Linked DNA regions of Homo sapiens. The protein of the gene in region 3 interacts with the protein of the main gene of each other region in a pairwise test. Each region holds a gene or a part of one and is shown on either strand. Other genes may lie near its edges.

Region 1 (7,286 bases), on a different chromosome or scaffold from region 3:
TCTTCCCACTTCAGCTTCTCCAACAGCTGGACTACAGGTGTGAGCCACCATGCCTGGCTAATTTTTTGATTTTTTGGTAGAGATGAGGTCTCTCTATGTTGCCCAGGCTGGTGAACTCCTGGGCTCCTAAACTCACCTAGGCCTCCCAAAGTGCTGGGATTACAGGAATGAGCCACCTCACCCAGCCTGCACGTATTTTAGAACTACATTTTAAGATAATGTGAAGACTGCTTCATAAAAACACCTTAAATATATACTTGTCAAAACTTGTGCTTACTTATGGAAATTGCATTAAATTCAATAAATTCTTTAAATCTCACTTTTAAAAATGGCAATCTTCCCGAACATTAAACCAAATTACATTTCTCCCTGAATTTGCTGCCACTTAATTTCAGCTACTCTTCTACAGAATAGTACCCATGTTATCTTTTTTTCTGTCTGGTTCCTACTCAAAAAGAGTGGAACTGCTTTCTCCAAATATGCATTCTGTGCTCAGAAGCTGTTTTCTCTGCCCAGATACATGTGTAAACAAGCCAAAAAAAACAAAACAAAAAAACAAAAACAAAAACAAAACTTTCTGCTAATAGATTGACAGCTACAAGGTAGAATATTTTAAAAATTCAGTAAGCTGGGCGCAGTGGCTCACTCCTGTAATCCCAACACTTTGAGAGGCCAAGGCAGGTGGATCACTTGAGGCCAGGAGTTCGAGACCAGCCTGGGCAACATGCTGAAACCCCGTCTCTACTAAAAATACAAAAATTAGCCAGGTGTGGTGGCATGTGCCTGTAAATCCCAGCTACTCGGGGGGCTGAGGCAGGAGAATAACTTGAAGACCTAGGAGGTGGAGGTTGTAGTGAGTTGAGATCGTGTCACTGCACTCCATCCTGGGTGACAGAACAAGACTCCAACTCGGGGGGGGAAGAAAAAAATCAGTAATAGTGAAAATAGCAAAACCAGACAACATTTCCATGTTTGTGTTACAACAGTCCTAAGAAAATGAGATTATCATCATCCCCCTGTTACAATTGAGAAAATGTAGGCAACACGAGGGTAACTTCTAATGAATAAGCCATGCCTTTGTTTCATATAAATAAGTCAACTCAACTCACATTAACTTTTCAAAATACCGGATAAAATTTATTTCTAACCAATGCAAGTTTCAAAGATAAGTACACAAATTAAATTTATGATTAAATAATAAGCTTGTTAATCTGATGCCTTTCGGAACGCATTTCACTTAGCAAACCTCAATTAAGCTATTTCTTATATGGTTTGATTACAAAACTGCCTTTCAGCATATTAAATACAAGGAGAAAAAACTGAAAAGCCACAACGATTTCAACTTCTGTAAATTACCCTGACTGTAATGAGGGGCGCCAGGCAGGTTGGGGAAGTATGGAAATTGCACACTGCACACACCACCTGACCACCAAGAAAAAAGAGGACACCACTCTTCCCCACTGTGGTCTTCACAAACTACAACTCAGCACCTATTTCAAGTGCATTTAAATATTCAAACAACTGAAACTAAGAGAAAAAAACTTTCGAAAGGGAAAATAACTTGTCTGTCCCCTTCAATGTTCACCTTGGAGTTGCTCTCATCTCTAGAAAAAGGCCTCACGCATACTGTTTATACTTACAAACTCCACTGCCCTGTCAAGGAAAACCTTCCTGTTTTCTCAGTTATCCAAAACTTCAAACTTCCAATTTACTATTAAGACAAGTTATTGGGCATCCACTTAGAGAATCTCAAACGAAAGCCAGATAGGAGGTAGTTTTCTACAGCTAGGTTTCTCAAGTTTCATCTCAGCCAAGTTTTAAGAACGTTTTACGTAAAAATAAGGGGAAAAGCAAAATTACATTCGCATGAAGTTTCGACGCACAACGGCACTGAAACGGAAAGACTCTTCACGTTCCCAAGCGCACCCTGAGAGGCAGGTGCAGCAGCTTTCCGATGGCTTCTCTGCCGCCCATGTATCCCAGCCCCAAGACCAACACAGGCAATCTTCACATCTGACTTTATTTTTTTAACTCCTTCAGATCCACCTCTGCTCAAGTCTATCAACAGGAAAACAGGAGCGTTCCAAACACACACCGAGCAACAGGATCCCAACTTCCTGGTTCTAAAGGAATGCGATGCCCTGATGACCCGTCCCGCCCCGCACCCGCACGGCCGCCTATCCGGGCTCCGGCGGGACCGAGGAGCGAGTGGCAAGGCTGGCGCCGCACTGCGGGTGCCGGCGCCCGCCCGGCCTGGGGGCGCTCGCGGCCCGCGACCCCGGCCCCGCCCAGGCCCTGCCCGACCCCCGTCCTCGCCGGCCTTCGCCCAACCCCGGCCTCCCGACCCTGACCCCGGCCCGGTCTTCCGGGCACCCAGCTCCGTCGACTCCCGCCTCGCCTCAACGGGTCCTCCTAAGCCCCGGCCCCGGCCTTCCCCTGCCCCGGCCTCGGCCATCCTCAGCCCCAGTTTTCCCCTGCCCCGGCCCCGGTCCTCCTCAGCCCCGGCTTTTTCCTGGCCCTGACCCCGGTCCTCCTCAGCCCTGGCCCTTCCCGTGCCCTAGCCCCGGTCCTCCTCAACCCGGCCCCGGCCTTCCCCTGCCCCGGCCCCGGCCCCGGCCCAGGCCCGGCCCTGCCCGCCGCGGCCGCGTCCTCCGGGAAGATGGCGGCGCAGTGACAGGCGGCGCGGCGCGGGTCCGAGCTGGGCCGGGAGGGACGGCCCGCCGCGGCCCAGGGTGCCTCACCTGTCAGCGCCGCCGCCCCGCCCGACCGGCCGCCCGCGGGCTCCTCGCCTCAACCCCGGGGCCCGGCGGCCGCGCCACACGCGGGGACGGCGAGGAGAGAGACGGCAGGGAGAGGCGGCGCGGCCGGGCCGGGCCGGGCCGGAGGTAGGGGAGAGGGCGGGCGCGAGCTGGCGGCGGCGGCGGCGGCGGATTCTTCCCCTTTCGGGCCCGAAAATGTCTCAACCCCGGGACTCCAGATCCCCAACGCTCCTTCCCGTTCGCATGAGAACACACAGCTCCCACTTCCGGGGCCCTGCGGAAGTCCCGCCCCCGCGCGGACCCGCGCCTCGCGCCCTGAACTCGCGCACTCACCCGCCGGTCCCGCGGACTGGCGCTCAGCCCCGGGAGAGCCTCACGTCATGGTGTTGCGGCGCGCTGATTGGGCGCACCCGACGCTCGGCCCGCCCCGCCGCCTTCTTGGCCTCTCCGCGCGTACACCCTGCTCGCGGCCTTGCGATTGGCGCGTGCGCGCACATCGCCCCGCCCCGCGCACGCCGCACGTCCGCCCCGCCCGCCCCGCCCGCCCCGCCCGCCGTCCCCGGCGCGACCGGAGCGCCTGACGCTGGGGGGCCGTGTGGGCCCTGACTTCCGGAGGGCTGGGCCCTGGTCCTCCGCCACCGCGTGCGCCCCTTAAAGACCCCTGCCCGCCGCCCAGGACGGATGGCGACCCCGGCCCTAGCCTGTCCCCAGACCCTGGACCAAGGCCCCGGCCCTGCCCCGAACCCCTCATCCCACCCCCAGGACCCAGGCCCCGACCCTGGCCACCCAGGACACGCCCTGGCCCTTCCCCGAACTCCCACCCCACAGCTGGGATCAAGGTCCCGGCCCTGCCCGGAACACCTCACCCCACACCCGGGACCCAGGCCCCGGCCCTGCCCCGAACTCCCACCCCACACCCGGGACCAAGGCCCCGGCCCTGCCCCGAACCCCTCACCCCACCCCCGGGACCAAGGCCCCGGCCCTGCCCAGAACTCCCACCCCACACCCGGGACCAAGGCCCCGGCCCTGCCCAGAACTCCCACCCCACACCCGGGACCAAGGCCCCGGCCCTGCCCCGAAGGCCCCACCGGGGACCCAGGCCCCGGCCCTGCCCCAAACTCCCACCCCACACCCGGGACCAAGGCCCCGGCCCTGCCCCGAACGCCCCACCCGGGACCCAGGCCCCGGCCCTGCCCCAAACTCCCACCCCACACCCGGGACCAAGGCCCCGGCACTGCCCCGAACGCCCCACCAGGGACCCAGGCCCCAGCCCTGTCCCGAACTCCCGCCCCACACCTGAGACGAAGGTCCCGGCCCCGAAGTCCCAACCCCACACCCGGGACCAAGGCCCCGGCACTGCCCCGAACCCCCGCCCCACACCCCTAACCAAGGCCTCGGCTCAGCCCCGGAATCCCCAACCCCACACCTGGGATCAAGGCCCCGGCCCTTCCCCAAACCCCCAACCCACACCCGGGACCAAAAGGCCCCGGCCCCACGTTTCCTAGAGGCGCTGGGTTCGGGCCCACGTTGCAACGAGTCAGATGCTCTTGGTAGCTCAGGGAGGTGTTCACACTCCTGCCGTTTCCGTGAGGATGGTGACGACTCCGAACTATAGCAGCATACTCTACCTACCCCTGATCAGTTTATGGAAGAAAAGGAAACCAAACAAAGTATGTTGCGTTTCCCTTAAGCTTGCTGCCTGATTTTCTGGTTTCTGCTCTGATTGGCTACATATACACATATTATCAATTATTCCAAATTTTAGGTTTGTTCCCCCATTAAAACGGCTTTTCAGGGATACCATATTCATGGTTAACCGTGTACCTGTGCTTACAACTGCTTTTTTAATTTTGTTTTTTGATACAGGGTCTTGCTCTATGCAGGTCTGCACTCTGAGCTCAGAGTGCTGTCTCGGGCCCCCAAAATCTGGGATTAGAGATGGGAGCCGGTGTACCCAGCCTGTGCTTATAATTTTTCGTACTCAGCGTTCAAATGCTGACAATTCTGCATTTTGGAAGAAAGCCTCTCCGGCTTCCCATAGTGGGTAGACTGTTGACATCAAGGTTGGGTGCCTTCTTTGTGAAACCTTGTTGCATCCTAGCTTTAAGGGAATTTGCAAGTTAAATAATTATATTCATAGTAATGTTTTTAAAGAACATTTAACGACATAAGACACATTTCCTTTAATATTAAAAGCATGTACATATTTCAGAAAACTTGCTTACCTGGACAACCTGCCCTGACCAGTAGGCCATAGTGTCCTTGCTTAGGTGCCTGGTTCCTTTACCTCCACGGATAACCTACAGGAGCTTACTCTTGGTTCATAACATTGCTAGGGCCATTGATGTGGTATAAGTCTAGGAATTCTGCCCCAAAATTGGTAGGTTAAACTTTTTTTTTTTTTTGAGACTGACTCTCCCTCTGTCACCCCGGCTGGAGTGCCGTGGCATAATCTCGGCTCACTGCAACCTCAGTCTCCCGGGTTCAAGTGATTCTCCTGCCTCAGCCTCCGGAGTAGCTGAGACTACAGCCGCATGCCACCACGCCCAGCTAATTTTTTGTATTTTTAGTAGAGATGGGGTTTCACCGTGTTAGCCAGAATGGTCTTGATCTCCTGACCTCGTGATCCGCCTGCCTCAGCCTCCCTAAGTGCTGGGATTACAGGCGTGAGCCACCGTTCCCGGCTGGTAGGTTAAACTTCAATCTTTTTTGTCTATGTCTACATTCCAGCAGACATCTATGTCTTACCTATTACAAAAGAAAGTAATGGGATGGGTTCAGTGGCTCATGCCTGTAATCCCAGCACTTTAGGAGGCCAAGGCAGGCAGATCGCCCAAGGCCAAGAGTTCAAGACCAGTCTGGGCAATATGTCAAAGCCCCATTTCTTTAAAAAATTATACAAAAGTAGCCGGGCATGTGGTGCATGGCTGTGGTTCCAGCTACTCAGGAGGCTGAGGTGGGAGGATCGCTTGAGGTTGAGGCTGCAGTGAGCTGTGATTGTGCCACCGCATTCCAGCCTGGGTGACAGAGCGAGACCCTGTCTCAAAAAAAGAAAAAGAAAAAAACTAAAACTAAAAGAATTCCATCTCTTCTTTCTCTTCGTATTGTGTAATCCTTTCCAACAATCAGAACTGGGCTTTTTGTTCCCTCATGATCTTCTTTTTTTCAAACCTGTGTCTCAGAAGAAACATCCATTTTCACCTTGAGATGTGAGGTTATAACATGAAATACATTTTCATGGCATCTCTCCTTAGACAAGATCAGTTTTTTAAAACTTTAGTATAAATTTCTCAAACCATGATCAGATACACTCCCTCATTTCCCATGTCAAGTGGTTACAAATTCTGTCAATCCTACCTAAAAACTCTTTCCTTCTCCCCGTCCCCCCAGTGGTTTTGCCGTTGTTACTGCTCACCTGGTTTGATTCAGTGGCGTCGCGGTTGGTCTCTGCTACAGTCCATTACTCACAGTGCCAGCACATGTTTCCTTAAAAAGCTTCATCACCATCCTCCTGCAATGCGACCTTCACCGGCTCCCCGTTGCCTGCCCAGGAGGATAAAGTCCAAGTTCTCCTGTGGAAAGAAGACCCTTCACACGCTAGTCCCAGCCTGTCTTCAGCCCAGCCCCCTGTGTTTCCTTTCCTGCCTTATCCTAAGACATCCTTACCTTCCAATCACACTCACTTTCCGAGCATTTTTGAAGGTATTGAGGGAGTTGATGAGTCTACACTTGAATAAAATACAGACTTTACACTCCAGACTGCACAGTTGACAGGTAAGTCCACAGTTCATAGTGTGGACAGTCCTATACAAAGAAATGGAGAGGTGCCCCAGCTCCAGACGCTGCGCTGCTCTGGAAGTCGAGGGCGGCATTCTTTTGGAGCCTGAGCACTTAGGTCCTAATGGATGTGAGTCCCCTGGCCTCAAATGTGCTTCCTGTACTTGGATGTCTCCTTCTGGCGGAATCTCGCTTATTTTTCAAGTTACAGCCCAAATGTCAACCACTGAAGTGTTTTAGACAGTTGATTTTCCTTCTGGGCCCTATTATTAGCACTTGTTTGTAGCTCTGTTGAGCTACATCACATCATACAATTTTCAGCTGACACTACTGTCATCCCAAAGAAATGGTCAGGCCTCAAGGGCAGAGGCAGCGAGGGCAGTGATCTTGGGACAAAGTCTCTACCAAACAAATACAGCATGTGTATTTCTCTAGCAGAGGCCTACATTTCAAGTGGTGTCTGAGAACATTCTTTTCTTTTTCTTTTTTCTTTTCTTTTCTTTTTTTTTTTTTTTTTTTTGAGTCTCCCTCTGTCTCCCAGGCTGGAGTGCAGTGGCACAATCTTGGCTCACTGCAACCTGCGCCTACCGAGTTCAAGTGATTCTCCTGCCTCAGCCTCCCGAGTAGCTGGGATTACAGGGATGCACCATGATGCCCAGCTAATTTTTGTTGTTTTTTTTTTTTGTTTGTTTTTTGTTTTTAGTAGAGTCAGGGTTTCACCATGTTGGTCAGGCTGGTCTCGAACTCCTG
Region 2 (7,023 bases), on a different chromosome or scaffold from region 3:
CCAGCACTTTAGGAGGCCAATGTGGGCAGATCACTTGAGGTCAGGAGTTCAAGACCAGCCTGGTCAATAGGGCAAAACTCCGTCTCTACTAAAAATACAAAAATTACCTGGGCACTGTGGCACGCACCTGTAATCCCAGCTGCTCGGGAGGCTGAGGCAAGAGAATCGCTTGAACCCGGGAGGCAGAGGTTGCAGTGAGCAGAGATCGTGCCACTGCACTCCAGCCTGGGTGACAGAGCAAGACTCCATCTCAAAAATAAATAAATAATAAATAAATAAATAAATAAAGATGTGGCGGGGCAGAGGAAGTATAAAACATGAAGGAATGAACACATCAATTCAGGCCAGTAGTCATTTCTTGAGAAAGAGGAAGGAGGAAAGGATGCAGGGTGGAACTTCAGCTATATCTATAACATTTAATATTTTAAAGGGAGTAAGACATCTAACAAATATGACAAAATGTTAATGTCCATCAAGTTGGGGTTGTAGACTCAAAATTGCCTGAGTTTTTCCCCTGAACTTTTCTAAATGTTTGAAATATCTCATTATGCAAAATTGTAAAATTAATAAAGGGCCAGGTGATTTGATGAATAGAGGAGTCAACACAAAAACAGTCAGGAGCAGAATGGTTTCCCAAAACTATAAGGAGATATCTGACTTGTTCAGTTTTAGACTGAAGAGGAGCCTTCACATCCCTCAAACAGCAGCGCTTAGAACAGGGTAGAGTGAGGACTGACAAAAATGGACAAGAAGGTTTATTGCCATCTCAAATCAGATAGCAGAGGGGAGTGAAAAACCACCTTCCCACATAATTTAAATGCTAGTGTAACCAAGTTATCTCCCCTAAAACAGCCAAGAAAGCTTCCAGTTACACAGGAATTCAGATAAGTACTCACTGTGAGTAGCTATTCTGTGCCTCCTTTCTACCCACCCCTTCCTTCTCCCAAATACTCACAAACAAAAACAAAATGTACCCTTGCCCACTTGAGAAAGAATTAAGACTTGGCAGCTCTGCTTAAGTGGACAGCTTCCAAACCAAGGCCCTTCTCTGGGGAAGATGCTGACAGAGCCCAGAGAAAAGAATTTAAAAATCACAACTCAGACAAGTTTTGAGGAAGGCCTATCAATGGAAGGTATCCATCCTTCCACACGTCCTTAAGTCCCAATTTCTCCCAGGGGAATCTAAGGACTTAGAGGATGCCCTCTACCCTGTTCTGTTCTCCTCCAGCAAAAGTGACTAAAACACAAAATCCAAACTCTCACTTAGCACTTTAAAACCAAACAATTTCCCTCCACAAAAATCCAATGAAAATGAAAATACAGGGAAGATGCAGAATCTGAGTATTTAATATTTTAAAGAGAGTAAGACATCTAAAACAAATATGACAAAATGTTAATGTCCATCAAATTTGGGATGTAGGCTCAAAATTGTTTCTGTTTGGGTTTTTTCCCTGAACTTTTCTAAATTTTGTTTAGATATTCTTTTTTTTTTAGATAAATATACTTTTAATCAGTGCCCAATTTATCATAGCTTATTTAACAAGTTTCAGTGGCACAAATAAAACTAAGTTTAAAAGAAAACAACTTAAAGGGAGCTTAGTGGCAGAGATAAAGACATGCAACAAAACAAATACCTTGACATTCTTCTACATCTGAATCACTACAGCTGAAAAATCCTAACACCTCATTCAGCCCAGTCCAGGGCACCGAACTGCCCCTCTTCCCAATGGTACTCTCAGGGAACATCTTTCTCAGTCAGACCTAGGAAAATACCTCTATTCACTTTGGACTGGTTAAAAAAAGACGGTAGAATGGAATGATGTTAAGTCCTTCTATCTGCTAGTACAATGCAATGTGGCAGAATGACACAAACACTGAAATGGGACTTGGGAGAGAAGAGAGAGGTGAATTCACCTTTATTAATCACCTAGTACATGCTGAAGACTGAATTCTAGACTAAGCTATCACAGAACCACTTCTGTGATCCTGAGTAAACCTCAGGTATTCTATTTGAAAATGAATGAGGAAAACTAAGAAAGCATCGCAGCCCCGCCAGTTGTCTGATTCCATGAATCTGTAAATATGATCACTCTCAATAAATGTGTTCAGTATAATGAAGTTATTGAAAGGAATTCTGCTTTCTCCATCTCCAATCCACCCTACACACCACTGACATAATCTTTCTAGGATGTGAAACGTATTAAATGGCTCCTGATATACTGCAGTATAAGATAAAGCTCCAGGCCGGGCGTGGTGGCTCTCGCCTGTAATCCCAGCACTTTGGGAGGCCGAGGCGGGCGGATCGCGAGGTCAGGAGATCAAGACCATCCTGGCTAACATGGTGAAACCCCGCCTCCACTAAAAATACAAAAAATTAGCCGGGCATGGTGGCGGGCGCCTGTAGTCCCAGCAACTCGGGAGGCTGAGGCAGGAGAATGGCGTGAACCCGGGAGGCGGAGCTTGCAGTGAGCTGAGATTGTGCCACTGCACTCCAGCCTGGGTGACAGAGCAAGACTCTGTCTCAAAAAAAAAAAAAAAAAGATAAAAACTCTGTATGATCCAGCGTTGCCTACCTCTTCAGCCTGCCCTCCATCCCATCCTCCAGCCATAATGATTAAGTAAAAGTTACCTGAAGAAGTCTGGCCTTCATTCCTTTAAGCTTTTGTTCATGGTATTTTCTCAGACTGGAATGTAATTCTTGTCATCTGTAGAGTATATCCTTAATTCATCTTTCAAGACTCAGCTCAAATGCTAACTCCTCAGGGAGGCTCTTTCCAACCTCAGCATGCCCAAGGCAGAACTGACCCTTGGGCTCCCACTCTCCCTGCTGCATACTTCTATCACAGCATCTATCACACTTCATTCTATCTATATATTTACATATCTGTCTCCTCCCACTAGACCCATACGCTCCTCGTGGGTTCCTTGTCTCCCTTACCTCCATCTCAGTGCCTAGGATGGTGTTTACAAGATAGGAGACATGTTTAGGTTTAGACGTGTTTAGGTTTATCAGTACCATTTTCTTTGCCCTTCTGCTCTTTCCCTAAACTTTAGTCCTCAGAGAGCTTATTAATTCTCTTGGCTACAGCTACCACATCTAGGCCATGAATTGCAAAACTGCATTTCCAAACCTACCCCCATCTTTACTCCAGCTCACACCCAGGACAGCCTTCATTTGGACATTTCATTGCCACTTTAAATCCAACACATCGCAAATTATACTCATCATATTTCCCCAAAATGAGGAAAGCTTCCTAACTTCTTTATTTCACTCAATGTCTCAGACACCCAGGCACAACGTGTCACAGTTGTAGTTGACTCATCACCCTTCTTCATCTCCCACATCCACCCCTCATTAATTTCCATTTTTCCTTCACAGTCTCTTTTTCACTCTTTCCTCTCCTTAGCCTACCCTCCACAACTCTAACTCGGGCCTCATCACTTCACACACCCCCAGTGTCAATCTCCATTCCCTCCCAGCCAACCTGTGTATTAGTATCATCATACTGCTATTCTATTCAAAAATCTTCTACCATTTAAAATATAAAGTTGACCGGGCACGGTGGCTCATGCCTGTCATCCCAGCACTTTGGGAAGCTAAGGTGGGCGGATCACTTGAGGTCAGGAGTTTGAGACCAGCCTGGCCAACATGGTGAAATCCTGTCTCTACTAAAAATACAAAAATTAGCTGGGCATGCTGGTGCACGCCTGTAATCCCAGCTACTCAGGAGGCTGAGGCACGAGAATCACTTGAACCCAGGAGGCGGAGGTTGCAGTCAGCCAAGATTGTGTCACTGCACTCCAGCCTGAGCTGGACAACAGAGCAAGACCCTGTCTCAAAAAAATAAATAAATAAATACATAAATAAATAAATAAATAAATTTTATATATATATATAAACTTATAAGCCTAGCTTTTTAACACCCTCTATAAACATAGCTCCAAACCAACCTACCCACCTTCATTTCACTACTGCTCACTGCCACTCAGGTTAGTCTCCTCACCGCCCCAAGAACATCTCAGGTATAGTCCTGTTTCCAGGCTTTCGCTTGATCCCTTTCAGCTCCAATATGAAATGTTTTGTTATCCTCTTCATCTTCATCCCTTGTACCTAATACAATAACACTTATTCATTTATTTTTTTATTTATTTTGGAGACAGAGTCTTGCTCTGTCACCCAGGCTGGAGTGCAGTGGTGCTATCTCGGCTGTTTGCAACCTCCATCTCCTGGGTTCAAGTGATTCTCCTGCCTCAGCCTCCTGAGTAGCTGGGATTACAGGCGTGAGCCACTGTGCCTGGCCTATTTTTTTATTAAGATCTGAAATGAGTTATAATTCCTCTGTGACATAACTACCTGAGTACTCCTCTCCCCAAATACCTACGGTATGAGGTCTGCACTATGCAACTAACAATATAGTTTCACATTTTAAAATTTTGTGTGGCATATTAAGAGGCTCAGCAAGTATTCATTCCTTTTTATTCTTCTTACTCCCAACTGGACTGTAAACTCTTCAAGGACACAAAGTTGTCATTTTTCCTAATCCTCCATAGCACCTAGCAAAGAATTAAACTCATAGTGGGTCACTACAAATAACAGTTTAGTAATTTTCTTATCTACAGCTATTTCTTAGAGGAAATAAAGGGCTAAGGTATAATCCTAAAAAAAGCACAGTTGAAAATAATCCCTATCTAGTTGTATAAAATAAGATTCCTGACTTTTCCACCTGATTTCTAGCTCAGAAATACTACAATCTCCTGACTCAAGAAGTAAATAATAATCCTGTGCTCGTGACATCAGTTTGGTAATGATTATAAAGAGGTGGGGGAGAGTGGCAGGGATGGAGAAAAGCAAGTCAACTGGAGAAGAAAAAAAAGGGATGAAAGAATGGCATGTGATTTTGTTTACTTCTTAAATGTGGACACTTCTGCCCATTCCTTTTTTTTTTAATTGGACATACTTTCAAACAACTTTCCTACAGGAGGAAAAGTCTGACAGATTTTCAATGAAGCTGATATCTGGAAGAGCCTCTACAAAGCACAAGTCCTTTGAGAAAGCCGGCTTAATCTTCAACAACACAACATAATGTAGTGGCATTCGTCCAGATACTGTGAATGAAGGCTCATTCTGGCTGGAACACAAGCATCACCTGCCAGTCATTCTCAGACATAAGACAGACAGCCTAGGAGGCCACATTGGATCCATACAGATTTTGAAAAGAAATTGGTCTATCAACATATTCAGTGTAGTCTAGTCTTAATTATCTACAAATGGATTATTCATTTTACGGATTTCTAAGGCCAAATCTTTAATGCAAGAATGACTGTTCTTCATCATCAGTGTACTCTCCCCACCATCAGGTAATATAAGCTTAGAAATGCAAATTTATTTCAATATTAGTATGATCCCCAAAAATGAAAATAAATCTAGTTTAAAAAATAATGTATTTTCGGCCCGGCACACTGGCTCACGCCTGTAATCCCAGCACTTTGGGAGGCCGAGTCAGGCGGATCACGAGGTCAGGAGATCAAGACCATCCTGGCTAACACGGTGAAACCCCGTCTCTACTAAAAATACAAAAAATTAACCGGGCGTGGTGGTGGGCGCCTGTAGTCCCAGCTACTCGGGAGGCTGAGGCAGGACAATGGCATGAACCTGGGAGGCAGAGCTTGCAGTAAGCTGAGATTGCGCCACTGTACTTCAGTCTGGGAGCAAAGTTGTCATTTTTCCTAAACCTCCATAGCACCTAGCAAAGAATTAAACTCATAGTGGGTCACTACAAATAACAGTTTAGTAATTTTTCTTATCTAAAACTATTTCTTAGAGGAAATAAAGGGATAAGGTATAATCCTAAAAAAAACACAGTTGAAAATAACCAGGAAATGTCTTTGTTAAGTTCTGAATTACCTACAACAGTGCTCCCTACATTAGCAGAGACAACTGAGAGTTAAATGCACTTGAAACATAATGCTGTCCTTACTATAAGCTCTTGAGGAGAATCCGGCCATAGTCTTGAGACTTCCCCACAGGTTGGTGCACTACGAGACAGGAACAAGCAGGCTCAGCATAGTAAGGTGTGTAAACACAAAAACTTCTACAAGGAATCTTATGCCTCCTGGCTGTATCCCTTCAGGTTAGGATGGTACAGAAAATAAGAGTCACAATGTACGGATGCCTGCCTGATTCCTTGTCCCTGAGTTCCTGAACCAAAGGGCTCAATATTTCTCATTAAATCCGTCCTTTGTTCAAGGACCTACAATGATTCTATTGACCCTTCTATCAACACCCAACAGAGTCTGGCTTCTGAGTCCCCTCCACCCTCTTGCCTGCTCTACTCATGACTTGCCCAACCCACATTCTCTACAGTCACTCTCATATATTCCCCCCACTCACAACTTAGTCATTCATATCATCATTGCACACTGTACATTCTATACTTTCTGTTTGGAAGATCCTTTCTTTTCTTTTATTCCCAACACAGTAACTATTTCATTTACTTGAATGCTCACATTTTACAGATAAGGAAAAGAAGTTAACTTGTCCAAGGTCACATGGTAAAAAATAGCCGCAAGGTCTGAACGAAGACCCATCTAACTCAATAGCCCATACCTCTTTATGACTCATCCATAGCCTCCCAAGTCCATTTCAAAATTTACTGACTCAGAAATCTCCCCAATTTATTTCACTGATTCTTACTTTGTTACTTTAAGTCTTCTCAGCCCTTACATACTTATCAGCACGTTAAATTTGCTTTTGTCTATATGTTGTTTCCTAAATGTTAAAGCTCATAATAGTCTGCCTTCCCATATTTATACACCACCTTTCCCATCCACCCTCAACCCCAAGAGCAAAGACACATGTCTTTACATCTTTTATACCTCCCTAAAGCCTGTCACTGGAGCATGGAGACTGCTTTATCCAGAGAAGTGTTCAATCATTACTCAGCAAGGATGTCTTATTTAAAAACAAACAAACAACTCTCTTCTATTATATTAAAAAGTCAACTGAATTCAGGCATTCATGAG
Region 3 (7,410 bases):
GTGACGGGAGGACGGAGATGAGAATTTAGCTTGCTATCAGAGACTCTTGCTTCATTGTTTTTTGTGTTTGTTTGTTTGTTTGTTTTGAGACAGGGTCTCGCTCTGCTGCCCAGGCTGGAGTGCAGTGGTGCTATGACAGCTCACTGCAGCCTCCACCTCTCAGGCTCAAGCAATCCTCTCACCTCAGCTTCCAGAGTAGCTGGGACTACAGGTGTGCACCATGGCACCTGGCTAATTATTTTATTTTTTTGTAGGGACAAAGTGTCACTATGTTGCCCAGACTGGTTTCAAACTCTTAGGCTGAAGATACCCGCCACCTCAGCCTCCCAAAGTGCGGGATTACAGGTGTAAGTCACAGCGCCTTGCCCCTTTATGGTTGTATTAATATTTATCCCATAACTACTTCCACACACTCTGTAGGTTCAGTTCAAGAAGCAGCAGCAGCGATATCACTAAAAACAACAACAACAAAAAAACTGACTTGATTTATTCTGATAAAGATACTATTCCTTTGAAATGTTACTGGAGTTTTCAACCATGACCTTTCTTTCTGGTTTTACTAGATTTTTCTTTCAAGTCTCCGCCTTCAAAGGTATCTATCCTGTCACTAGCTATCTGCAAATCAACCTCACAAGCATTTTTAAATGAGATTTTGAAGGGTTTTAAACACAAATGAGACAGGCACAAGCTCCTTTTTTGGGTCATAATTTATTACACTAGAGGGCGATATTTGCTAAACTAAAAGGGATTCATGGTTGCAGGGATGAAGGCTGGACATCATGATTGAGCTGGAGCCCTGGATCTTGACTGCCTTCAGTGTACGGTGGAAACTGCAAAACGCACAGGTCTCTGGGCTCTGCCCCTGGACATTGTGAATCAGTCAGGGAAAGGGGTACAAGAAGTTATTGGAAATATGTTTTTAATTTCTTTTTTTTTGTTTGTTTTTTGAGATGGAGTCTCACTCTGTCGCCCAGACTGGAGTGCAGTGGCGCAGTCTTGGCTCACTGCAACCTCTGCCTCCCGGGTTCAAGAGATTTTTCTCCCTCAGCCTCCCAAGTAGCTGGGACTACAGGCGCACACCACCACGCCCGGCTAATTTTTGTTTTTTTAGTAGAGACAGGGTTTCACCATGTTGCTCAGGCTGGTTGGTCTTGAACTCCTGACCTCGTGATCCACCTGCCTCGTCCTCCCAAAGTGCTGGGATTACAGGTGTGAGCCACCATGCCCAGCTTTTTATTTCTATTTTTTTGAGACAGGGTCTTGCTCTGTCGTCCAGGCTGGAGTGCCATGGCACGATCAAAGCTCACTGCAGCCTTGACCTCCTGGGCTCAAGCCATCCTCCCACCTCAGCTTCCCAAGTCACTGGAACTACAGGTGTGAACCACTATGCCTGACTAATTTTTTGGTTTTTTGTTTTTTTTTTTTTACAGAAACAGGGTCTCACCATGTTCCCTAGGCTGGTCTTGATCTCAAGCAATCCTCCTGCTTCGGCCTCCCAAAGTGCTGGGATTACAGGCGTGAGCCACCATGCCTGGCCTGGAAATCTGTTTTTTGTTGTTGTTGTTTTGTTTTGTTTTTTTAGCTCTCCAAGTTTGGGAACCAGTGGTTTAAAGGGAAGTGAAAATAAGATTTTCTCCCACCTCCCCATAGTCAGATCCTGCTGTACTTCTTTGTTGAATCTGATGTATATATGTTTCTTACACTGGTGGAAAAGAGGCCTTATCTTTACACTAAGACCATGACCTTTGCTTTATTCAGTGGATGTTATTTAATGTGACTTGCAGAAAGGTCATTTACTGCCCATTTGCAGGTCTTTTATATGGTCAGGTCCACTTCAAAGGCACCCTACAAAATATTCCATTTCTGTTTGTGTTTATCAGTGCTATCAGCTTTTACTTTATCATAAGCAAAAAGCTGCCTAAAGAAGTACTTGACTGTAGAGCAAGATTATGGGCAATGCCACCATAAATAAAACCAGTGCTTATCTGTCTGGATTGCCAATCAAGTGAAGAAGTGCATGAAGCATGTGGACGATGCATAAGAAATTCAGAGAATGGGGCCGGGCACAGTGGCTCACGCCTGTAATCCCAGCACTTTAGGAGGCGGAGGTGGGCAGATCACGAGGTCAGGAGTTCGAGACCAGCCTGGCCAACATGGTGAAACCCCGTCTCTATAAAAATACAAAAATTAGCCAGGCGTGGTGGCAGGCACCTGTAATCCCAGCTACTCGGGAGTCTCAGGCAGGAGAATCGCTTGAAACCGAAAAGGCAGAGGTTGCAGTGAGCCACGATCGTGCCACTGCACTCTAGCCTGGGCAAAAGAGTGAAACTCTGTCTCAAAAAAAAAAAAAAAAGAAAGAAATTCAGAGAACATGTAACAGTGCAATTAAGCCCTGGGGATTTGGTCCAACTGAGTGTAAGATAAATAATACCTAACTGTCCAGGCTTCTTGGAACAGATTTTTTTTCTTTCTACGATCTTTAAAACTGATTTATGAGTGAAATTGAGGTCAGCATTCCCCTTTGTGTTTCATCTGCTGATGTTACAGGGTCACAGTGACATTTTGAATTGTAAAAGGGCTGCCAGAGTTCCAGTACAGCAAATTTTCCCCTCCTAGACTTACTCTGTTTGAGAAAAAGCACCAGAGGGGGGGATGTGAAAGTGACATTTTTCAGTCAAGCTTCTCTTTTAAGTCAAGTATACAGGGTCTAACAGATGCTGTTGTCAGCTGGCAAACTGGACAGGTAATCACTAAAGAGGTCCTCCCAAGCCAGGTGTCGTGGGGCACACCTGAAGTCCCAGCTACTGGGGAGGATCTCTTGAGCCCAGGAGTTTGAGAGCAGCCTGGGCAACACCGTGAGACCTCATCTCTAAAAAGAAAAGATAAAAGGTCAAGAAATAAAGAGCTCCTCCCAGTTTCAGGGCTGTAGGCCTCCCTGGAAGCCCGGCTATACTGCTCAGGAGTGCTGGGCCTCTCAGTACATCTCTCTGCCAATCCCAAACCTCTGTTTGCATTTAGACATTCAGGTAACACTTTTCAAAATGTCTCTACTGTTTTCACAGTTGCCAAGATTCTTCCCACTCTTACAGAGATGTGTTGGAGTCTCCAGCATGCGGTAGGACTTAGTCCCTTCACTGTAATCCAGGCCTAGGGGGTTAGGAATGGGGAGCTCTATTTGCAGGATTTGGGCTTACTGTCATTTTGGTCTGTTTTAGTTGGATAAGATTGACCACAATGCACACAGACTGGACATTTGGCCAGTCCCCCACTACTACTTTGTTGTTTTGTCTAGGAGTGCTTATTCTTTTCCTTCAAACCTGAAAAATCTTAGGCTCTCATATAAGCAAGTCAGGAAAAATTAGAGAATTTCATAGCCGTTTTCTTTTTCTCCTAGGATAAGTTAGATACCTTTCCCTGGGCTCCAAATCTCAGTTTACTGTCTTTCCTTGCAAAAGACGTGTCCTCCCTACCCATGTCCCTCTCAGTGGAGGCCAGTGCCAGTGACCAAACAGCTGCCGAGCTCTTTAACTCTAATTAGTACTCCACACCCTCACATAGACCTTGCAGGAGGCCTCAACCCACCCACTCCCTCCAACGAGTTGTGACGCAGACCATCTCAAACTTCACATCCACACGTGTCACATCAACGCACGTGACACAAGTGGCCGAAATGGTTTCCTCCTTATAATTTTTGGTGAGTGACTTGGCCGTGGTTCATTCCAAGCGGAAGTGATGGCTGGTGGATATGACTTGAGGGGAATTCCTGAGGGCAAGGAAAAGGAAGAAAGGGGCCCCAGAGAAGACGAGGCACAGCTGGAGAACCCTAGGGCTGTGAACACTGCGACTGCCGCGCGGGGCAGCTGCGCCGTGTTTGCTGGAAGCCTCCGGTAGCTGCTGAAACCTTCGCTCCGGAGGTCGCCTCGGTAAACCTTGCGGATGATTCCACCACGGCGGAAAGACGAAAAGGAGGCTTCTAGGCACCCGGGACCGCCCGTGTCCCGCCCTTTTCCCCGATGAAGTCTGACGCGGCAGGTCCCTCGGCAGGGTTAATGGGACGGCCTGGTGGGGCATTGCCGGTCTTTCCCAGCCACAGACAAGCTTCGCGCCTCGATCCCCCAGCGCCCCCAGACGCTGGATGCCGAGGCCTGGTCCTTTACAGCCGCCGACGCCTCATGAGCGAAGCCAGCCAGATGCCAGCACCGCCTTCGGCCCCGCCCCGAGCCAGCCCCTCCCACATCCCCGCCCGGGGCACGCCCTCGGCCCGCCCCCATCTCCGCCCCGAACACGCCCCTAGATTGGCCCCGCCCCGTCCCCGCCCGCAACTCCGCCCCGACCGGAAGAAGCCGCGGCACCCAGCGCTTATAGGGCCGGGAATGGGGGTGCCGCCGCTGCCTAGTCAGTTCTGCGTCCGCTGAGGCTCGGTCACCGCCTCGCTGTCGTCGCGGCGCCCCCGCCCCGTCCTCTGTCCGTACCGCCCCCGGAGCCAGGGCCGAGTCCTCGCCATGCCGGCCCGGCGGCTGCTGCTGCTGCTGACGCTGCTGCTGCCCGGCCTCGGGGTGAGTGACCGGGGAGCGTGGGGTGGAGGACAGCTCGCGACGGCCGGGTCGGGGCCGGGGCAGCGTCGCGGCGCCGGGGCTGGAGTCCGAGCTGGGAGCGCGACGGCGGCGGCCAGATGCCCCGTGAGCCCAGCCGTGGGAGGCTCGGGCCGGGCGTAGGAGGCGGCACCGGGCCGGGAGAGCTTCCCTGACGGGAGTCGCGGCCCCACCGAGGCGTCGGCCGCCCGAAGAGCCTCCCAAGCCAGCGCGGCTGTCACGGGCAGCGGCTCCCCGGACCCCGCGGGCTCGGGCGCAACTTCGTGGCGTCCTGCACGGCACTTGGGGGTCCCAGAAGGCCCCGGCCTGAGGAGGCCGCCCACCTGCGGGACCCTCCTCCTCGCGGGCGGGCGCCGGCGCTGCCTGGCGGGGGCCGCGGAGGAGCCGAAAGGGCGTTGGGATCCAGGGGAAGGGTCTGTCCTGCGCTTCGAATCCTTGTTTGAACTTTTTAAAAATTCGAAAACTTTGGGGAACGAATGCAACAGGGAGTAAGGACTCTCACCCGAGAGCTGGCTTCTGCCACTTGCCCTGCCGGTTTCTTGGTACTGGGAGGCTGCAGGCTTCCTTCTGTGCACCGAGACTTCCTTGAGCAAGTGGAGCTGTGGGAATTGCACTCTTGGAAGATCCCGCATGGGTTCGAGGTGAGGCCGCTTCAGAACCTCAAATGAAAGACTGTCTCCTCGTGGGAGAGCACCTGGGGCCATCAGAAATGTCTTTTCATCTTTTTCTGGAGGAGACGAATGATAGGGCCTGGTTTACATTCATTTAACTCTTTATGACCTTCACTCAGCTGTGGATTTGGGGGCACTTTGTGGGAGACTTGGCTTTTTTTTTTCTTCTGGTTGGAAGAACCTAAATTAGCGAATGTTTTTCACAAAATGTATTGTTCAGGATGTGAGCGTGGCAAATTTGTCCGTGTTCTGTTTAATGACCTCTTTAAAGGTACTGTGTACTCTTTAATAGGGATATCATGTACCAGGTGTCCCAGTAGAGCACTGACATGTGTGTGCCTGAGTGCCAGCCACCGTGTGAACTCTTTGGAGGTTTTGCATTTTAGGTAAATAACTGTCTGTACTCTTGGAGTAACAAGAATTTGGAAACAGGAGAAGTAAATAAATAAGGTTGCCTTTTTCAAATTCAGGGTTTTTTTTTTTAAATAAAGGAAAATTTGTAGACTCTTTATAATAGAACTTGTGGAAGTTAAGTTTTTCTTTCAAATAAAAACCCCACTTTTACAACTAAGGTCAGGTTTTGAACTTGAGCACCTCACCTTGGATTGGTAACTACTGCCTGGCATCTGTTCACAAACGAAGGTATAAGCAGAATGACCAAATGTTTGACATGAATTCGATCATTTCATAACGTCAAGGGATAGGTGTATAATGGTTTCCTTTGCCACATCTTTCCTTTTGCTACTTTGTCACTGGATTCTAGTGTTTGGTTATTGAATAACTTAGGCTAAAGAGCCAAAAATAACGATTTAGCTGTAGTTGGAACTATAGTTTCAGTTCGTGTAAATATTTCCAATTTGTATTTAGAAATCCAAACTTCTCAGAGTTCATGATAAAATATTCCAGACCCTTATCAAAAGGTTATAGTTTAGCGTAACTATATTTAGGTGAAAGGTCAGGCCGGGCCCGGTGGCTCATGCCTGTAATCCCAGCACTTTGGGAGGCTGAGGTGGGTGGATCACTTGAGGTCAGGAGTTTGAGACCAGCCTGGCCAACATGGTGAAACCTTGTCTCTACTAAACATACAAAAAAAAAAAAAAAAAAAAATTAGCCGGGCGTGGTAGCGCAGGCCTGTAATCCCAGCTACTGGGGAGGCTGAGGCAGGAGAATCACCCGAACCTGGGAGGCAGAGGTTGCAGAGATGGAGTCACTGTGCTCCAGCCTGGGTGACAGAGCAAGACTCTGTCTCAAAAAAAAAAAAGAAAGGTCAGAATTTCACTCCTAGAATTTTCTCCCAAGGGTTTTTACCCCCAAACATAGTAAGAATTATTATTTTAAAATTGTAAATGAAACTCATAGCAAAGTTTGCAGTTAAACCAGGCAACAGTGATGTGCAGAACGCAGTGGGTATAAAATCAGACAAACCTGAGTTCTAACTGGTCACTTGCTAGCTGTGCCCTAGGCATATTCTTTTACTACTACTACTACTACTTCTTTTTTTTTTTTTTTTTGATATGGAGTTTCTTCGCTCTTGTTGCCCAGGCTGGAGTGCAATGGTGTGGTCTCAGCTCACTGCAACCTCCGCCTCCCGGGTTCAAGCGATTCTCCTGCCTCAGCCTCCCGAGTAGCTGGGATTACAGGAGCCCACCACTACACCCGGCTAATTTTTGTATTTTTAGTAGAGACGTGGTTTCACCATGTTGGCCAGGTTGGTCTCGAACTCCTGACCTCAAGTGATCCACCCACCTTGGCCTTCCAAAATGCTGGGATTACAGGCATGAGCCACCGCACCCGGCCATGATTTTACTTCTTAGAGACTCCTTCCTGATAGGTGAAATGGGGACAGCTAACATGTGAAAGAAGGCACCACCTTCACACGTGCTTAATAGATAATAAATGTAAATTCTCTTTATGCTCCAAAGATGCTTTTTACTCTAAGCCATCATTTTTTGAATGTTATACTATGCCTCTGCAAGAAATAGTTTTTGATATTTCTTTTTGATTGATGTAGTAACTATTGCATTGGAGGCAATACTGTGATTTTCTTTCAGTGTGTGTCTTATTGAGCCAGACATTGACTCATTATGAGTTGAGACTTTAGGCTACCAGATCCAAAACGCAATAACATTGGTATTATTAAGCACTTG
Region 4 (7,023 bases), on a different chromosome or scaffold from region 3:
GCACACCTGCCTGCAGATCATTTACATATATCCAAGGCATTTCAGAATCAGATCAGAAATGAGACCACCCTCCAAATGCCAATCCTGCCAACCGTCCTGTCTCTACTGTCTCCCCTCCTTACCCTTGGTGCCTCATGCAGGGAACATCATCGGCTCTGGAATCTTTGTCTCGCCAAAGGGAGTGCTGGAGAATGCTGGTTCTGTGGGCCTTGCTCTCATCGTCTGGATTGTGACGGGCTTCATCACAGTTGTGGGAGCCCTCTGCTATGCTGAACTCGGGGTCACCATCCCCAAATCTGGAGGTGACTACTCCTATGTCAAGGACATCTTCGGAGGACTGGCTGGGTAAGAGGATCTGTGGAGACCTGAATGGTCTAGGGGAAAAGGAGGAAGACATTCAGAAGGAGGTCAGATTGGAAAAAGCCAAGGCCAGGGGTTTCCAGTCTCCAGTGTGCCACGGGGTGCTAGTGAATGGAATGTCTCTTCTGCTTTCCTGCCATGGTTGCTAGTGTAGCCTTGTATCCCCTTGAGGCTCCCGATAATGATGGAGGACCAGGTTTGTAGTTTTGACCTCTATGTTGATCTTAGTGGGAAGGAGTCTATGAGTGAGAGCAAACAGAACTGTGTAACAACACTGACCATAGATTCCCAGAGAAAGCACATCACAAAAACAACGCCCTTCTATCTTGACAAATGAGAGTGGCCAGCTAAGGTAGAGTGCACCCTCTTCTCACACTACCAAGGATAATGGCCTCCCTCTAGAGCTGGGCCCTAATCTTAAATTTCCTCAATTTCTGCATCCCTGCCATTGGTAAACCCTCACCAATGGGCCAAAAGGTGTGGAAGGCGCTTCCCCTGCAAACCCCCACTTGATACCTCTCCTGATTATTGCTTACGTAACCACACCCTTAGTATGTCCTGTCTATCAACATTCTGGGGTTGCAAATTTTGTTTTTCCACCATTGGATGCTGGTGGCCACAGTGATGGAGAAGAGATCATGAAAGGAGAGGAGAGAAAGGAAGAACGCCAAGACTTGTGTTAGTGCTTGTGGAAATTTAACTCTTCATTAAACCATTTTATTGTCACTGCAGAGGGCTGGGTGTCTCATTTGTGGGTGGGGGCAGAGGCTGGGCTCTTCAGCATCCTTGAAAATAAAAAAGAGATGCATGACTTGCCCGGGCTCTCCCCTGATGGCTCTGCGTCCCTGCCATGCCTTTCGGCGGATGTCCCTTTCCTCCTTCAGGTTCCTGAGGCTGTGGATTGCTGTGCTGGTGATCTACCCCACCAACCAGGCTGTCATCGCCCTCACCTTCTCCAACTACGTGCTGCAGCCGCTCTTCCCCACCTGCTTCCCCCCAGAGTCTGGCCTTCGGCTCCTGGCTGCCATCTGCTTATGTAAGTGTCATCTGGGTCTTGGTAGCAAGACAGCCTCTTTTATTATATTTATTATTATTATTTTTAGAAACAGAGTCTTCACTCTGTCACTCAGGCTGGAGCGCAGCCGCATGATCATAGCTCACTGCAGCCTTGAACTCCTGGGCTCAAGTGATCCTCCTGCCTCGGCCTCCCAAAGTGTTGTGGTTACAGGTGTGAGCCACTGCACCCAGTCTGAGGGACAGCCTCTTTTATCCTCCCTGGAGGTCTACATGTCTCTGACTCTCCTAACTTCTCTCCATTTTTTTTTTTTTGAGGCAGGGTCTCACTCTGTCACCCAGGCTGGAGTGCAGTGGCGTGATCTCCACTCACTGCAACCTCCATCTCCCAGATTCAAGTGATTCTCCCACCTCAGACTCCCGAGTTGCTGGGATTGCAGGCGTGAGCCACCATGCCCGGCTAATTTTTGTATTTTTTGTAGAGATGGGGTTTCACCCTGTTGGCCAGGCTGGTTTTGAACTCCTGACCTCAAGTGATCCGCCCGCCTTGGCCTCCCAAAGTGCTGGGATTACAGGCCTGACCCACCTCACCCTGCCTCCTTTTCTTTTCCCCATTACTTTTCTTTCAATTTCCTACAAGTGTGTTTTTTATGAATGGATTCTGCATACAATTGTCTGGTGTTAAAAAAAAAAAAAGAAAGAAACTTAAGTAGCTCCTTGGAGGCACTATGATTTTCACTGGCAGGGTTCTTGACATTACGCAAAGCACTTTCACCTATATTATCTGATTTGGGCCTAATGACAAGTCCATGAGGTAAGCTGGGCCAGTGTTAACATTTTCCCAGAACAGATAAGGAAACAGAGAGCCAGGCAAATGACTTGCCCAGGGAGGCAGGCCACGTGGAGTGCAAGGGCTCCTGATTTCTTGTCTGTCCAGTGCACTGCACTGTGCTGGCTACTCCCAGCTGCTCCTAGGAAGATTACTCTGGCTTCTTGGCAGTAGGTCCACATCTACTTCTACCTCAACTTGTCAAGTCACACTCTTTTAACTCTCTTGGAGAAGGGTTTGTCCATGATCCCTGCCCTTGATGAGTTTTCTAACTAGGAGAAAAGCCATATAGACAGATACTGTGGTTAGGATTCAATTGCAGTAAAAATTCAGAGAAGGGAGCTAGGCATGGTGGTGTACACCTGTAGTTCCAGCTACCTGGGAGGCTGAGGTAGGAGGGTCGATTGACCCTGGGAGTTCTGGGCCACAGTGAGCTATGATTACACCTATGAATAGCCACTGCACTCCAGCCTGGGCAACATAGTGAGATCCTGTCTCTAAAAAAAAAAAAGAAATTAAAAACAACAATAACAATAAAATTCAGAGAAGGGGAAAAGATCTCTGTGGGCTGGAATAGGTTAGAGAGGCTTCCTAGAGAAGTTCTGCAGAGCCGTATTTCTAGGAAGTCTCAAAGCTTTATCTCTGATATTAGTCATCTCAATGGATTGGGGTATTTTACATCTTTAATCAAAAACTAATTTCTAAAGTAAATACTTAGATATGTTTCAGGGGCTCCACCTCTAGGGTTCACTGGGTCCCTGCCTTCCCATAGCTTCTAACACACATACACTTAGCTGAGGGCAGTGATCATCCTGGCCATATGCTTTCCCAGGTCCTGACACTTTTCCTTCTGTCCTGTTACGGGATGGGGGAGGAAGAGATCACTCACCCACCTCAGTAGCCTCTTACAGGGCAGGCAGCTGGGACCCAAGAGGCGGTCTCCTTGGCAAGTGAGCCCTCTTTGGCAGTGCTGGTCAACCCTGGGACAGACCTCCACCACCCAGGCCATTTGCAATATGGGGCCAAGACATTTGTTTGGGGGTGTATTCCTTGTGTTTGATCAGGCCTGCTCACAGATCTGGAGGCAGAGGAATGCAGGCTCCAAAACCAGGCTGCCTGCGCCTGCATCTCCAGTCCACCATTTCTAACTGCAGTGGTGAGTGCTGGGCAAAATCACTCGTCCACCCTACTGTGAGATGGGGAGTGTAATCCTAGCTGCCTCAAGAGGTCGTGGTCACAAGGACTGCAAGAGAGAAGGAAGGGGACACCCTCAGCACAGTGTTAGACACCCAGCACCCCAGTCATATCAGTCACTGGGGGTGGGCAAGATGCTGGGGCCACTTTATCCTTGCATCCTAGCTGGATCCAGAGTTGAGATGGGGAGCGGGGAAGAGCGAGGGCGTGGGAATGCAGGAAGAGTGCTGTTTCTGCCATCAGATCAGCTAATGGGAGGGTGGGAGGCAAGGCCACAGAAGTGCTAGCTACTGCTGTTTTGGTGTTTCTTTGCACACAGACAGCTTCCTTTTTCCTGCTGATGCTGCTAAAGTGTCTCAGACAAGAGGCCACCCTTACCCTTCTACTAGAAATCAAGAACCCCCGAGGCTGTTCAGTTTGCACCCTAGGAGAGGAGCCAGGCCACAGGTTGAAGAAGTTCCCAGGCAGCCAGACCCCATGGCTTTCTTTGCATTCCCCAAATCTGCCAAGGGTTTGACCTCTTGCACAAAGACCCTCCAAAGTAGTGTAGCCTTTTTGGCGTCCCCTCGGACCAGAAAGGTCCAAACTCTCCTAGGAGATAAGAACGCCACCTGCCTGTAGCCCTGCTCCAGAATGACATGTTGCACAGTCCTCTCCACAGCCTTCCCCTCACCTAGACACTGCAAGGACCAAGCCAAGGAGAAATTTAGAAACTGGCTGATGACAAAAATGACAAGACCCCCCTCCTCTATTCCTGTAGTCAAAGATTCAATAAAGCTTATCTAAGTTTGGCCTCTGCCTTCTCAGCAGAACTGCAAGGAAATTATCTCCAACTTAACAGTAGCCAATCTTGTCCTCTAAAGACAGGAATTTTCAATGTCCTTGAAATATGGGTTCAAATATTTGTCTACCTTCATAAGCAGAAAAATCTTAAATCCTTCTTATTCCCAAGCGTAGTCTTCCTTATTTCCTTTAGGGGAAATGGAAACCAGCTCCACACCTGTCCCGCTGCAGTGTCCCTTTCCTCCTAGCTGTGAAGGCCATGTGGAGCTGCCATCCCTCTGCCCGGCAGGGTGCACACGTACATGCATTAGCTATAACAAACTTCCTCTCTCCCTTTCCTTATACCTGACACTCCCAGCTGCTTTGAGTCTGTGTACAGAGGTTCTGTTTTCCGGTTTGTTGAATACTTTTTTTTTTTAATCCACTTCTATAGGCCCCTCAAATCCTCTCTTCTTTTTTTGAATTTTATGGCAGGCCATACCAGATAAGCATCCAATCCTCTCATACGGTATTCAGTAAAACAAGAACCAAGCTGTCAGGAAGGCTTGGTAGATGCTTTTTTTTTTTTTTTTTTTAGATGGAGTCTCACTCTGTCACCCAGGCTGGAGTGTAGTGGCGCCATCTTGGCTCACTGCAACCTCCGCCTCCCGGGTTCAAGCGATTCTCCTGCCTCAGCCTTCCAGGTTGCTGGGATTACAGGCATAAGCCACCATGCCCAGCTAATTTTGTATTTTTAGTAGAGATGGGGTTTCCCCAAGTTGGTCAGACTGGTCTCAAACTCCTGACCTCAAGTGATCCACCCGCCTCAGCCTCCCAAAGTGAGGCCACTGCGCCCGACTGGTAGACGCTATCTTTCATTAAATGCTGGTACTTTTTATTCCAGCACCCCTCCCACCCACCCACCTACCCCCACCATCATCCAGCCCTCCTCATCCTCTTAGCAGGGGCCAGGCAAGCCAGCTACATAAAATAAGCCCAGCCTGTGTCTCTTTTGAGAGACGCAGTAGAGAGTTCCGGTGTGGCGTAAACATATGCACATGGGGAACTCTGCTTCCTGCTGTCCTGTGGCGACATGCTGATGACTGTGAAGCGAGAGGTTTTGAGGAAAGGCCACCCTCTGTGGAGAGGTCATTGGTGTATAATGGAGGGCACTGGAGGACAGGGCACAGGGCCCAGCAGGGAGAGCCTGTGTGGTAAAGCCCGTGGCGAGGGTTTGCTGGGGGAGGGAGGAGATGAGGCCAAGTCTGGTTCCATGGTGGGGCTGTTTTGGAGGAGAACTGATGAGAAATGAAGTTGGGAGGAGCCAGGTGGTGGGGGTGGAGAGGTGGAAAGAACCTGCTGAAACTGGCTTGCCTGCCGGATCCTGAGCGGGTCGGGGAGAGGAGAGGGAGAGGGAAGGAACTGCAGACTTGGATCACACTTATGCAACTGCAGCTGCCACTTCGAGTTATTCTATTATTTAGGTCAAAGCTGATTACTCACTGCTGAGTCAGCAGAATATCCCTAGCCACCCAGCAGTAAAAAAAGAAAAGAAAAAAAAGAGAGAGAGAGAGAGAAAGTATTTTACATTTTAATTAAATAAAAAGCCTTTCTCTCTTCTCCAGAACAAGTATATTAGTGGGAGTGGAGGGAGTTAGGAGGGGACTGGGAAGTGTTAGAACTTGGTTTTGATACCTTTTGTGATCTGCTTGTGTGTTTTTCTCCTTTTGTATTATTTCATGAGTAAATGACTATATTCCCCATATAAAAGATCCAAGTAAGATATAGAGCCAGCAGCGATAGCCGCCCTTATCATCAGCCGCTGGCCAGTAGCTGCAGTCCTAGTGGATAGTTCTAAATAAAGTGCATCTATTACTGTACAACTCTGGCTGCATGGACCTATGTACTGACAGGTTATTCCTACAGCGTGCCCTTTTTTTTTTTTTTTTTTAAGACGGAGTCTCCCTCCGTCACCCAGGCTGGAGTGCAGTGGCGCGATCTCGGCTCACTGCAAGCTCTGCCTCCCGGGTTCACGCCATTCTCCTGCCTCAGCCTCCCGAGTAGCTGGGACTATAGGCGCCCGCCACCACGTCCGGCTAATTTTTTGTGTTTTTAGTACAGACAGCGTTTCACCTTGTTAGCCAGAATGGTCTCGATCTCCTGACCTCGTGATCCACCCGCCTTGGCCTCCCAAAGTGCTGGGATTACAGCTGTGAGCCACCCCCACCCGGCCTACAGCTTGCCGTTTTATCCTGTAGCCACATCTTTTGGCTGTTACCTGGGTCTCTAGTTGTAAACAAAGCATCCACAATGATCCAGAGGAAGCACTGGGTCCAGGGGACACCCTTTCCCAGGCTTCCATCTGTGCATCTGTGCAACTCTGCATTTTCCTTTGGGATCCGTTTGCTCCCCATTCTCTTGGAGACTGGATCACCTTTCATTCAGTCCCCTCCTGGCCTCCTTCCTCTCATTTGGGGTTGGAGTCATGTCCAGCACCTGAAGTGGAATCAATTCTTTTTATTCAAGTTCCCCACTTCTCCCTGAATGTCTTGACCTAAAGAAGTTCCTTCTCCTTCCTCACCCTCAGGAGAAAGAAATATCCTGTATGCATCTCTCAAGGAAAAAATGCTTCTAATCTTGTTTTCTATCTTTCTACTGAGATTCCTAAGAGGCTAGCTTTTTCCAGGGCTTCAGATAGCTCTTCTTCCTTGAGCTATTTGGAAAGGAAAGGACTTCATGTGTTGCTTCAAACTCCTGAGTTGCTTTGCAATTCCTCTGCAGAAAGCCTCCAACTGCCTGGTGCAGAATGCTGTCACAGAGAAACTCGTGAGTTGTTTTGCAAGTCTCTTGCAAATTTAATCAAT

The links.
Region 1: the proteins of ERN1 (region 3) and LARP4B interact in binary tests that used the Homo sapiens proteins (3 or more experiments, as listed by UniProt).
Region 2: the proteins of ERN1 (region 3) and OTUD7B interact in binary tests that used the Homo sapiens proteins (3 or more experiments, as listed by UniProt).
Region 4: the proteins of ERN1 (region 3) and SLC7A8 interact in binary tests that used the Homo sapiens proteins (3 or more experiments, as listed by UniProt).

The regions. Positions count from the first base shown.
Region 1 is NC_000010.11:928,687-935,972, forward strand, and holds the start of LARP4B (la-related protein 4B), read right to left. Parts: upstream 3,020-7,286; 5' UTR 2,742-3,019; intron 1-2,741. Other genes in the region: keratinocyte proline-rich protein-like, read left to right, coding at 3,441-4,145. UniProt on the Homo sapiens protein: Stimulates mRNA translation.
Region 2 is NC_000001.11:150,000,727-150,007,749, forward strand, and holds part of OTUD7B (OTU domain-containing protein 7B), read right to left. Parts: exon of another isoform or gene 5,979-7,023; intron 1-5,978. UniProt on the Homo sapiens protein: Negative regulator of the non-canonical NF-kappa-B pathway that acts by mediating deubiquitination of TRAF3, an inhibitor of the NF-kappa-B pathway, thereby acting as a negative regulator of B-cell responses.
Region 3 is NC_000017.11:64,127,122-64,134,531, reverse strand, and holds the start of ERN1 (serine/threonine-protein kinase/endoribonuclease IRE1 precursor), read left to right. Parts: upstream 1-4,387; 5' UTR 4,388-4,502; coding exon 4,503-4,556; intron 4,557-7,410. UniProt on the Homo sapiens protein: Serine/threonine-protein kinase and endoribonuclease that acts as a key sensor for the endoplasmic reticulum unfolded protein response (UPR).
Region 4 is NC_000014.9:23,159,658-23,166,680, reverse strand, and holds part of SLC7A8 (large neutral amino acids transporter small subunit 2), read left to right. Parts: intron 1-140; coding exon 141-345; intron 346-1,244; coding exon 1,245-1,396; intron 1,397-7,023. UniProt on the Homo sapiens protein: Associates with SLC3A2 to form a functional heterodimeric complex that translocates small and large neutral amino acids with broad specificity and a stoichiometry of 1:1.